2 separate regions of the Homo sapiens genome follow, and region 2 is linked to region 1. The links come from fine-mapping of genetic effects on gene expression. A gene starts in region 1. The other region holds a variant in brackets. All regions are shown on one strand. Distances are between the middles of the regions. Region 1 holds the start of KLC3 (kinesin light chain 3). Region 2 has its middle 26 kb from the start of CEACAM20.

What was found. PIP is the estimated chance that this variant, and not a neighbour inherited with it, causes the effect. A credible set is the group of variants that fine-mapping cannot tell apart.
Region 2: its variant is the best candidate, but not a certain one, in a credible set for the expression of KLC3 in whole blood (INTERVAL, PIP 0.59).

Annotation. Positions count from the first base shown.
Region 1 is chr19:45,339,449-45,342,256 of GRCh38, forward strand. KLC3 (kinesin light chain 3) reads left to right here and starts at 1,302. Exons shown (of 13, transcript NM_177417.3): 1 at 1,302-1,398. RefSeq lists a silencer at 1,198-1,287.
Region 2 is chr19:44,554,225-44,557,032 of GRCh38, forward strand. It overlaps the pseudogene CEACAM22P. Among named protein-coding and RNA genes, the nearest start is that of CEACAM20, 26 kb to the left of the region's middle. The variant C/T (reference allele first, on the strand shown) is at 1,674.

The DNA.
Region 1 (2,808 bases):
TACTGTCCTGGCCAGGCGCGGTGGCTCACGCCTGTAATTCCAGCACTTTGGGAGGTCGAGGTGGGCAGATCACCTAAGGTCAGGAGTTCGAGATCAGCCTGGCTAACATGGGGAAACCCCGTCTCTACTAAAAATGGAAAAATTAGCTGGGCATGGTGGCGGGCGCCTGTAATCCCAGCTACTCGGGAGGCTGAGACAGGAGAATGACTTGAACCCAGGAGTTGCAGTGAGCCAAGATAAGATAGCGCCATTGTACTCCAGCCTGGGTAACACAGCGAGACTGTGTCTCAAAAAAAAAAAAAAAAAAAAAAAAGTACTGTCCCTGTATTAGTTAACATTCAATTCTCAAAGCCTTAGACTATTTATATTTTATTGACTAGGGAAACTGAGGCACAGAGAGGTTAAGTTACTTGCCCAAGGCCTGCACAGCAAGTAAGTGCCGGAATCAAATTTGAACCCTGAGCCCAATTCTTAGATATCACATTCCCTTGCCAATAACATAATATATAACATAACATAATGATGTGATATATGTTATATAAAATAACTTTAGGGGCCGGGGGCGGTGGCTCACTCCTGTAATCCCAGAACTTTGGGAGGCCGAGGCGGGAGGATCACTTGAGGTCAGGAGTTTGAGACCAGCCTGGCCGACATGGCGAAACCCCGTCTCTACTAGAAATATAAAAAGTAGCCGGGCGTGGTGGCAGACACTTGTAGTCGCAGCTACTCGGGAGACTGAGATGGGAGAATCGCTTGAACTTGGGAGGTGGAGGTTGCAGTGAGCCGAGATCGCGCTACTGCACTCCAGCCTGGGTGACGGAGCGAGACTCCCTCTCAATAAATAAATAAGGTAATTTTAGGCCCTGAAAAGTTTTGTGAACAAAATCAAGAGGAGTATGTAATGTTTTGGTGGAAGGGTGCCATTTAGAAGGGGGCAATCAGGGAAGGCCTGCCGGAGGAGGTGGCCTTTGAGAAGAGACCTAAAGACGATGAGATCTGTGGGAAGAGAGATCGAAGCAGGCCACACAACCAAGGAAAAGGCTCTGGGGCAGGCACTGCAAGAAAGCCACCTGTCTGGGATCTAAAGTTTCCAAAGTTTTAGCTTGGCCAAGGCCCCTGCGCTACAATCACCCTGATTCGAGGTGTCCTGGAGGTTACCAGTTCCGCGTGCGAAGTTCTGCCATTCCCGCGGGGCTGGAGCCCCGAGGCTGAACTTCCCACGGGCGGTGGGCGTGGCCGGCTCACCTGCGGGGGCGTGGCTCCCGGCTGCCCCGCCCCTCGGAGGAGCCGCCCGAGGTCCCAGACGCCCGGCGCAGCGGGAGCGGCGGGGCGTGCCTGGCCTGCGGGACGCGACTGATCGCAGTGGGGCGAAGCGGGGCCGGAGCCGCCCGCGGTCAGGTGGGTGCCGGGAGTGGGGCGCGGGACTCTCGGAGAGCCGCGATGATGGGGGGCGGGGGCAACCCTGGGCCCGCTCGCCCTGAGACGGGGAAGGGCCTTGGGGCTCCCGGATGCCCCCTGCCCCGTCCTGGGGCTCTCCGGGATCTGGAGGCCTGGCTGGGGTCCCATGCCCCCCACCCCAGCGCAGGTAAACAGCGAGGACGGGGCGGGGCCTGGGAGGGAGAGGGAGGGGGCCCTTGTGACTGCGGGTGAGCCTGGTGCGCGGGGCTGGGCAGGCCAGGGTAAGTTGGTGCGGCTTGCGGGGCTGGGCCACGATGGGAGTCTCCTGCCTGCCTGTGTTTGTGTGTGTGTGTGTGTGTGTGTGTGTGGCTTTGCGTGTGTGTAAGAGAGTGTGTCAGGCTGTGGGTATGAGGGTGAAAGCGACTGTCCGTGTAACCCTGTGATGGGACTGTGTGTATGATGTGACACTTTTAGCAATGTGAAAACGTGGGCGACCTCTGACTGGAATGGTGTGTGTGTAGAATTGGATTGCTGGTAGCACTTTACGACCAAGAGCTAGTGCGACTGTAGTCGACTTTCTGCTTGGCCTGATGTGCATGTGTGTGGCTGTGTGTGTGGCTGTCTTCATGGCAGAGAGTGGAACTGGTTGTAGGATTAGGTGTGATTGACCAAGAGGCTGTGCGGCTGTGGTTGTCTTTCTGCCTGTTGGTGTGTGTGTGTGTGTGTGTGTGTGCGCGCGCGCGTGTGGTGGACAGTGTGGCACTGGATCAGTGATAGGTGACTATGATTGACTTTTGATTGTGTGTCACTGTGATGGTGCATGGGGCTGGGCGGAACTGTGTCCAGAAGTGGAGCTGTTTCATGGGACGGTGCGCGTGGAACCTTGGGGTTGGATGAGTGAGGTGTGGAGGTGTGTGAAGCCGTGTGTGCGTGTGTGTGTGTGTGTGTGTGTGTGTAGAGAGGAACTAGAGGGTGTGTGATCTGCATTGATACCGTGGCTGGCAGTGGTGTGCAACGGAGAGTTTGTGGGAGATGGGAGTGGAGACGTGGACATTTAAGTGGGATGCTCCTCCAAGCGGGTGACAGGATGGAAAAGGGGGTCCGCGTCAGGGATCAGTGTGTGGGACTGTGCCTATGATTATCAGCTGTGCGGTTGTGCACCCGGGGCTCTGTGTGAGTGTGGGAGCTGCTGTGTGTCTGGGACACAGCCCGAGTGCTGGATGGCTGTGGTTGAGCCGTGTTTGTTGCTGTGGTTGTCAATCTGGCTGTGGAGTGGTGTGTGTAAGGCTGTGTCTGAGGTTATAGAGGGAGGTTTTACATCGGCAAAATTGTGTGAAGAATGGTTGTGGTTGTCAGGATGACTCTTGAACCTGTGTGGTTGTGAGTTCAACCATTTATGATGTTTGTGTG
Region 2 (2,808 bases), 790 kb before region 1:
CCGTCTCTACAAATAAAATTTCAAAAAATTAGCTGGGTGTGGTGGCATACGCCTATAGTCCCAGCTACTTGGGGGACTGAGATGAGAGGTTCACTTGAGCCCAGGAGCTCGAGGCTGCAGTGAGCCGTGATTGCACCACTGCACTCCAGCCTGGGTGACAGAGTGCGACCCTGTCTCAAAACAATAACATTTCAAAAATTGATACTGAGTTTCTATAAAATTGTAAGAATTCACTACACTGATGTTAGAATTGTCTTAAAAGAATCTTAGAGCAGCCAACATAAAAATGCTTCAATGAACAATTACAAACACTTGAAATAAGTGAAAAACCAGAAAGTCTCAGCAAAGAAATAGAAGATATGAAAAAGAACAAGACGGAAATTTTAGAATGGAAAAGCACAATAACAGAAATTTTTTAAAAACTTAATGTTTGAGCCCAGCTGCAGAATGGAGATGACAGAGATAAAAATCAGTGCAGATAAAAGTTACCAAATCTGAACAACAGAAAGAAAATAGACTGATAAGAAGTGAAGAACAGAACTTTGGGACCTGTGGGACTTTAACAAAAGAGCCAACATTCATGTCATTGGAGACCCAGAAGGAAAGGAGGAAGTGGGTATAATGGCTGGTTTCCCAAATCTGGTAAAAGACATACATCTATGGAATCAAGAAACTGAGTAAACCCCAATGCCAGCGTGGTAATCAGGATTCTAAATATAGTCCTTCCAGATTTCTGTTCCTGATTGTTCAATCAAATGCTAATCTAGGTATTGCTTTGAAGGGATTTTGTAATTAAAGCTCAAAGTCAGCTGATCTTAAAATACAGATCATCTGGGTGGGCCTGACCTGATCAGGTGACTCTTTTAAAAGCAGATCAGATGAGAAAGTCAGAGAATCAAAACACAAGGAGGATTCAATGCATCCTTGCTGTCTTTGAAGATGCAGGGGTCAATGTGTGAGCAGGGTAGAGTGGCCTGCAAGAGCTTAGAGCACCCGCAGATGACAGCCAGCAAGGAAACAGACCTCAGTCCTACAACTGTAAGAACCTGGATTCTGGCCAGGCACAGTGGCTCATTCCTGTAATCCCAGCACTTTGGGAGGCCGAGGCAGATGGATCACGAGGTCAGTAGATCGAGACCATCCTGGCTAACATGGTGAAACCCCGTCTCTACTAAAAATACAAAAAATTAGCCAGGCATGCTGGTGGGTGCCGGAGCTTGCAGTGAGCCGAGATCGCCCCACTGCACTCCAGCCTGGGCGACAGAGCGAGACTCCATCTCAAAAAAAAAAAAAAAAAAAAAAAGAACCAGGATTCTGCCACCATCTGAATGAGCTTGGATATGGGTTCTTTCCCAAAGCCTACAGGTAAACCCCAGCCAACTCACATCACACCTTGATTTTGACCTGGTGAGAGAACCCAGTTGAGGACACTTGGACATCGAGGTACAGAAACTGAAATAGTAAATGTTATTCACTCTCTTAGTTCACCCAGAATCAGACTCTGCACTAGAATGTAAGTGCAATTAGTTTATTATTTATTTATTTACTTTTTTGGAGATGGAGTCTCGCACTGTCGCCTGCCACCACGCCAGGCTAATTTTTTGTATTTTTAGTAGAGACAGGGTTTCACCATGTTAGCCAGGATGGTCTCGATCTACTCACCTCGTGATCCA[C/T]CTGCCTCAGCCTCCCAAAGTGCTGGGATTACAGGCGTGAGCCACCACACCTTAGTGCAATTAGTTTATTTTGGAGAAAGCATTGGCAGAGGTGTGGGAAAGTAAGTAAGGGAAAAGAAGGAAGCCATATAGAAAAATTAGCTCTATAGAAAACTGGAGCTCACCTCTGAAAACTGGTACAAAACACACCTCTGAGGGCCGGGCGCAGTGGCTCACGCCTGTAATCTCAGCACTTTAGGAGGCTGAGGCAGGCAGATCACCTGAGGTCGGGAGTTTGAGACCAGCCTGACCAACATGGAGAAACCCCCTCTCTACTAAAAATACAAAATTAGCCCGGCGTGCTGTCACATGCCTGTAATCCCAGCTACTCAGGAGGCTGAGGTGGGAGAATCACTTGAACCTGGGAGGCGGAGGTTGCGGTGAGCCAAGATCGTGCCATTGCATTCCAACTTGGGCAACAAGAACGAAACTCCATCTCAAAACAAAACAACAACAACAAAAAATAAAACCACCTCTGAGTTGTTCCCCCTAAGTTCAGGGGAATATATCTACCAATTCCTTCTTGGTGTTAGTTAATGGTCACTCCCAGGATGTTAATTTCTCTGACATTTTCAGCCTGCCCTCAGTTGGGGCTTGCATCCTCTTGTACTCAGAGAAATCAGAGAGGCACAGACACTCATGGAAGGGGTTGCGGAAGTACTCACCACTCTCTTTCAGTCATTTCGAGAATTTCTCTTCTTTCATCATTCAGTCGTCCTAAAAGTCCTGTGTGTCAATAATAAATTACACCCACTGAAAGGAAGACGTATATTTACATTTCATGGCCTTTCATTTTCTATTAGTGTCCCCTTCATTCCACTCCATCTTATTATTAGAATGATTCTACCAGTGTCTTTCTGGAAAATAGGTGTAGGAATAAATTTATTCTAAAAAATAAAACAACATCTACGCAAAGAGGTCTTAAAACCTTCATAATTAGCTCTATAAAACAATTAACTCCAAGAAGTAATGCTGAATGCTTTCCAAATGCATACTGACAGTAAGAAAACATTATCAAATACCCACATTTGCATTTTTTCTAGACATGGTTACAGACCTAAATCCCTCAGTTGATCAGCTTGAGGGACCAAATAAA